Homo sapiens: one gene and its partner. The protein of the gene in region 2 interacts with the protein of the main gene of each other region in a pairwise test. Each region holds a gene or a part of one and is shown on either strand. Other genes may lie near its edges.

The links. Proteins that work in one complex are often made in the same cells at the same time.
Region 1: the proteins of DHX15 (region 2) and FXR1 interact in binary tests that used the Homo sapiens proteins (3 or more experiments, as listed by UniProt).

The regions. Positions count from the first base shown.
Region 1 is NC_000003.12:180,915,602-180,919,354, forward strand, and holds part of FXR1 (RNA-binding protein FXR1), read left to right. Parts: intron 1-3,753. UniProt on the Homo sapiens protein: mRNA-binding protein that acts as a regulator of mRNAs translation and/or stability, and which is required for various processes, such as neurogenesis, muscle development and spermatogenesis.
Region 2 is NC_000004.12:24,542,898-24,546,650, forward strand, and holds part of DHX15 (ATP-dependent RNA helicase DHX15), read right to left. Parts: intron 130-3,753; coding exon 43-129; intron 1-42.

The DNA.
Region 1 (3,753 bases), on a different chromosome or scaffold from region 2:
GGTTTTTTTTGGTGGTTTTTCAATGTACAGGTGATCTGAATTTCCCTTTTTTCCCCTCCTCTTACCCCGTATAGGCAGAAGACACACATTTGGCCGTAAGTGTGAATTGCCATTGATGAGTTTCAAAGTCAGTTATCATGCCTTGAGGCAGTACTCTGTAGACTTTGATTAAAGTTTTTGTAGTAGAACTGAAACTTCATTTCACAAATTAATTGGAACCAGTGAAACGCTGAAGATCTGAATATTTTACCTAAAATTAGGGTAGCCTTTAAAAAATAGTATGTACACAAATGGTGGCATGCTAAATACATTGTTCTGCATTTAACAGTGGCTCTATAGTTAGAGATATTAGAAACTTGATTTGTGCATGTTCGTAGCCCTATAAATCTGCGGGGATGAGAGAGAATGGGAAGATGTTAATTAAGCATTTGTTGGTGGGCTATGCTGTTATATAAAATAACATTATAGGCTTTGTACTTTTGTACTTCTCATACCTAAAGTAGCATCTTAGGTTTTATACTACTGGACATTTAAGGTGTCTTGAAAAAGAAAGTTTTAATGAGGTAGAATGTATATTCTATAAAACAACCTTTTTTAAGTGTACAGTTGAATGACAGTGTATTTACAGAGTTGTGTAACCACCGCCACAGTCTTCCTTCAGAACGTTCCATTACCCCACAGAAACCTCCGGCTCATTTGCATCATTAAAGTGCTTTTTAACTGATGTATAAATATATATTAGTCTTTGTAATAGCATTGCAATTTGTATGGCCTTGGGCTGAGTATAATTTCATTTTATTTTTATTTTTTGAGACAGAATCTTGCTCTTTTGCCCGGGTGGGAGCACAGTGGTGGGAGCGCAGTGGTGCGATCTCGGCTCACTGCAACCTCCACCTCCCAGGTTCAAGTGATTCTCCTGCCTCAGCCTCCCAGGTAGCTGGGACAACAGGCATGTGCTAACATGGCCGGCTAATTTTTGTATTTTTAGTAGAGACGGGGTTTTACTGTGTAGGCCAGGCTGGCCTCGAACTCCTGACGTCAAATGATCGCCCTCCTCGGCCTCCCAAAGTGCTGGGATTACAGGTGTGAGCCACCACGCCCGACCATGAGTATAATTTTAAATAGAAGTTGGAAGTAAGTCACTCAGTTTCTGGCTCATAGGAAAGTTTCCATGATGTTCGAAGGGAACCTGTAAGCTCTGAGATTTCAGTCACTTTCTGCAGAAGGTAGAGTTACATTTTTTTGTTTTCTTGAGACGGAGTCTTGCTCTGTCACCAGGCTGGAGTGCAGTGGTGCAATCTTGGCTGGCTGCAACCTCTGACTCAGTGGTTCAAGCGATTCTCCTGCCTCAGCCTCCTGAGTAGCTGGTATTTCAGGGACGCACCACCACGCCCAGCTAATTTTTTGTATTTTTAGTAGAGACGGAGTTTCACCATGTTGGCCAGGATGTTCTCGATCTCCAGGATGGCCTCCATCTGTCCGCCTCGGCGTCCCAAGGTGCTGGGAATACAGGCGTGAGCCACCGCGCCTGGCCAGAGTTAATTACTTTTAGAGCTGTCTGCTTCCACCGTGTAACTGTCTACAAAACAAATCTCAAAGTACTATATTTCTATAATTCCCTGTTTAGCTTGATTTAATATTAAGTGGAATTTGAGCGTAATCTAAATTATGCATAGATATATTAATAATGATGACCAATAGAATTATAGTAAAAAGTTGCGTTCAGAGGGTATGCTGACTTTTCAAGGTTAGTACAGAATCTTGTTAGTTGGTTTCATTGTGGAGATTTGTAATTGAAAAAACGATAATTGTCTTAATATTAGGCCACCCTGTTAATTTAAAAATACATAGTTCCAGATAATTTAAAATGGTTGTTTTGCATATTTAAAAAGATAATTTTCATTAAAATGCTAAGTAATGAAGATTTAACTGGATGTCAAAATAAATGATCACAACAGCTTTTATTTTCATTCACAGATAGTTGCAAAACGTGGAGGGGAAGGAAGGCTGGGATTTTCTACTCTATCTTGCTGATGGTGATCACAGTTATTAAAAAGTCAACTTAGGCCGGGCGCCGTGGCTCATGCCTGTAATCCCAGCACTTTGTGGGGCTGAGGTGCGTGGATCACGAGGTCAGGAGTTCGAGACCAGCCTGGCCAACATAGAGAAACCCCGTCTCTACTAAAAATACAAAAATTAGCCAGGTGTGGTGGCACGCGCCTGTAGTCCCAGCTACTTGGGAAGCTGAGGTGGGAGAATCGCTTGAACCGGGGAGGCAGAGGTTGCAGTGAGCCGAGATCATGCCATTGCACTCCAGCCTGGGTGACAGAGTGAGACTCTGTCTCCAAAAAAAAAAAAAAAAAAAAAAGTCAATTTAAATGCATATATTTCTTGTAAAGTTTTGTGTTTTGTATTAGAAGAGCAACACATAATTACGAAAAATATGAAAGCAGAAAAGCACATCTTACCTATCTAGAGAGATACTGTCAAGGCCCTGGCTTTAAATACTTCCAGAAAACATTATTTTTCCGTATTTTTACTTTTATGTACCTGTTATTTTCTATGTCAGATATTTGTGTGCCTTCTGTAAGATAATAGTTTAAGATGAGAGCCTGTTCTTTACTAGATTATGTATTAAGCTTCTATATGTATTTCCTGATTTTCTTTTCCCAAGAACTCTGTGAGGTTGGTTTTATTTTTTTAATTTTTATTTTTTAGTAGAGATGGGGTCTTGCTATTTAGATCAGGCTGGTCTCAAACTCCTGGTCTCAAGCAATACTCCCATCTGGGCCTCCCAGAGTGCTGGGATTACAGGCATGAACCACTGAGTCTGGCCAGCATTAGGGATTTTTCAAAGTAACTTTTAGGATAGTGAGCTTACATTTTCATTAGGAGGAAAAGGGCAGATACTTTGCTGGATTATCACTCTGGATAAGTTCTCTATCACAGTGTTTAAGGTTGTCAAATTAGCTTTTTTGTAGTGGGAAGAGCAATATGCATTCATTCCATGATTGACCCCTAATTCTTGTAATAGTTTTTAACTGGCAGGATCATCCAGGTAAACACCTTGGTTTTTTCATATGCAGTATGAAGCAGTTGTATTTCCTTTAACCTATTTATAAGTTGTGAAATCTTTGCTAGTTTCTGTTGATGGCAGTCCCATCTACCTCTAGCAACTGTAACTAATTTTCATTGAGTACCCAGACTACTTACCAGACTTTGTAGGTGCCTTACTCGAATTTCCCATTTAATCCTTTCAACCACAGTGAAGTAGATAACTCCACTATTTGAGAATACTGAGGCTAAGTGAATCCAGGTCTGTAAAGTTAGATGCTGATTCAAGATTCAGACTCTAAAGTTTGACACCACAGAACCAATTTCTTTAACCATTATGGTGCAATATTTTTTGAAGTACAAATGTTTTGCCACATTATTACTAATTTTGAATTGTTACTAATATGAGGAGAATTATGAGGAATAAATTGGGAGGTTCCCAGAGAAATGATTTGAGCTATGCCTTTGCTTTAGACAAATCTGCTTTCTAATATAGTAGCCACCAGCCATGGAGCTGAAATGTACTAGTCTGAATTGAGACATGCTTTAAATGTAAAATACAAATTGGGTTTCAAAGCCTTAGAATTAAAAAAAAATGTGAAACACCTAAATTTTATTTTTTTTTTATTTTTGTTTTTTTTTTTTTTGAGCCAGAGTCTTGCTCTGTTGCCCAGGCTGGAGTGCAGTGGCACTATCTCG
Region 2 (3,753 bases):
TTAAACCAACTCTAATTTATAAAGTATCCACTAAATATGTACCTTCTGTTTCGCAAATCCAGGATCAATCACAAACACCACACCATCTATTGTCAAAGACGTCTCTGCTATGTTAGTTGACACAACTACCTGTTAAGAAATAGAGTATATAAATTATATTACATATCAAATAAAATTAACAGGACTGTTAAAGATCAGCCACTAACTTTCACTGACACAAGGAATTTCAAGCCAGCAAATAAACTAGAAATATCATTTGATCTTCAATGGCCAATGCTTTAAAAAGGTAAATTAATATTTAAGGAACCAAAATTTTGTTTACACCACAACAGCAACTTCTTTCTCAACAAAGCTATTACTTCAGGTTATCACTCAACCGCATTACATTTTGCTTAATCAAATTAATGGACAGCATAAAAAGAAAAATACTGATGAAGCAATATAACGTGCCTTACAAAACGTCTGATAAAACAGCCCTTATAATTAGTATTCAAATTTCCACAAGTGTATATTTCAATGTTTTTGGGCAATATTTACAAATGAAAACTTCGTTATTTATATCACCAAAATTCAACTCAACATTTTAAACAAAATGCCACATGGAAAAAAACTCAAGTTATAATCCAGTAAGAATGGACAGATCAGCAGAATCAAATGTAAATATTTCGGTAAGTGCATGGTCTCAACGGGATGACATGTAATACGTTACTACATACAAAGCAACTGTTAAGAACTATAATTCTTTATTGACGGAAAATGTTTAAAGCATTTACATACTAATATGATAGCTTGTTTGGTATACGTGCATGTTTTACTATATATTACATATGTTTTAGAAAATTAGTTAAGGACTTGGGAAATACATGTTACATATAATTTTTTTTTAAACAATGGGAAATGGGGATTCCTCATTAGTATTTTAACTCAGGACATGATTTTCAGGAACAGGTTACTGATATTAAGTTGAAGATGTCTGTATATGCAAGCAATTGATACAGAAGATGAATCAAACAGAGTCTGCTTTTACCATTTGTAAGGGATGATTAGACATGGATAGAAAGTGTGAGTGGCACCAAAGACACACTGTGAAATTTAAAAAGGTTTACTTCCATAGCAAAGTCAAGAAAAGCTTTACTGAAAAATAATAGCATTTAGGACAGTCCTTGACGGTAAGGTTAAGACCTACTCATGAGAGAAGGAAACAGCACTAGCACTAAAGTTCCATCTTAAAAAAACACATGTGGGAGAAATGCCTATGGGCACATACAAAAAATGAAAAGATTTATATTTATCCCTATTTTATTTTAAAAACACTTAATTTTATAAATCAAATAGCTTTAAAAATCATAGGCTTTTGCTGCATTAACTATTTTACTTAATATTAACACTTTCATTTTCTGATTTCATATTTACTAAGTAGTAGACTTCCCAAAATACTAACAGGAAACCTCAGGGATTTAAAAACATAATAGCAATCTACCAAGAGGGTATTTCAGAATAATTTACAAGTCAAAAACCAAAATGTTTCCTTTTGTCAGTTGAAAAGACTGACAACTAGCAAAGGAATAAGAAACCACATGTGGTTTGATGATGTTGCTGAAATACATTCTTCAGGACATTTAGAAAAATAATCAGCAACTAGAACTGAAGCAAACAACGACATACATAAGGTTAACAGGTGAAACTTGAATAAGCATAACCGGCATTTAATATTCTAGAAAGTCAGTTTCTTGTAGTTAAAGAAGCGATGAATTTAGAGGTAACTGGCAGACCTAGCAATCAAACCTGAGTGGCTAAAGTAACTGGAAAGGTTTTAACACCCCCAAGCTTGTATTCCTTTTATAACTTGCATATTACTTAGTCTACATAACACAGGGTTGTAGGGAATAAATTATGTAAGGATGTGGAAATGCTCTATAAACTATACAGAATAGGCCAGGCATGGTGGCTCACATCCGTAATCCCAGCACTTAAAAAGGCCAAGGAGGATTATTTGAGTCCAGGAGTTTGAGACAAGCCTGGACAACATAGTAAAACCCCACCTCTACAAAAAAATAAAAGAAATTAGCCAGGCATGGTGGCACATGCTTGTAGTCCCAGCTACCGAGGAGGCTAAGGTGGGAGGACTGCTTGAGTCCAGGAGGTTCAGGTTGCAGTGAGCTATGATCATGGCACAGAACTCCACCCTAGGCAACAGACTGAGACCCTATCTCAAATCTATACAGAACCAACTACATGCCTGTAAATACAGAAGACGTCTTCTGGCTTTCTGGAATTCTGGGGTGAAAACCATAGTTCTGAAAATATTTATGAAGAAAATCACTTTTAAAAAAGTTGTTCTGGGAAAAAATACATTTCACATATTTCTTCTATAACATAATACAATGTGATAAAAATTTCTCATGTGACCAACTCTTTAGTTACCATTATAAAAAGTTAATTTTTCTCCACAAAATAATTTCATCCTGTGTGTATGTTTTTTGTCTGGGTGAGTGTATTAAATTCTGTAATACTTAACAATTCGCGGATACATGATTCTGCAAGTGTTTAAGAATCAAATGATTTATGCCAACTTGGCAAACCCTCGTCATTATTGATATTAGTAAGAGCCTATTGCCAGCCAAAAGTCAAACCCTAAAATACAAGTGTTAAATTGAGTCCTTAACAAAAAAGCACAAGTTTTAGGCCTTTCTCAAGGACTAAAAATAGCTAAGGCTAAATACACACACACACAATGCAAAAGCGAACTAATAAATGACAAGATAAAAGCTTCTTTGGTACTTCAGCAGTTGAGTGAGGCAAGCCCTAACCATGTTCTAATTGTAAATGGCACACCATACAACCAGGAACCCATCAGGAGACAAAATGACCTTGAATTTGTCAAGGGATTTACATTATGACCAGTAAGAATCAATATAATTGTTACATGCTTTCTAGACTGCAACACTGCAGTAAGCGTTCAAAGAGCCTTAAAAAGTGTTCAAACCGCATTGACTAATATGGAACAGACCCTATGGTGAAAAGCTTGGCATCACTGTCAGGACATGCTAAGAGTAAATTTTCCTCCCTCAATAACCTGCCTTCTAATAGAACTCACTTTTTTTCTAATAGAACCACTTCCCCCCACTCCGCCCCCAATAACTCCACTTCAAAGTAGAACTCGCAGTACTTCATTTGCCCTACCTGAATACTGTCTGGACACAATAATGCATTTAAACTAATTTGGACTTTTAGTCCCCAGGGAACTCTGTGGTGGTCTCCAACACAAGGACATCAACTTATTTGCTTATAAACATCCCAGCAGCACCACAGTAAGCTATCTTCAGATCCTGGATCATTAAGTCTTTCTTTAAAACTACAGGACCATCTCCACAAGGGCCATTTCTCTTTTTCACTGAGCAATGTATGCTCTGAACCATATTAATCAGCGAAATGTAGGATCAACTATAGAAAAGTCAGCTATTTGTATGAACAAAATTAATGAACACTAAATATTTAAAAAATAATTATAGTTGTATTTTAATAACAACCAAATCCACAAAATAGCAATTTTAAGTCTCAGTCAAAAAATGCAGAAGTTATCTACTGAAGAGTAAACTTGAATGCATGTAAAGAATTACTGTAACTTTTAACTTAGTCAAATACTTGAATAAACTTCAAAAATTATCAAGAGGTAAAAATATTTACCCTCATATAAATATATGTTGCATTCTCAACCTTTCTTGATTGCTAAAAACTTGAAATCGTTCACCA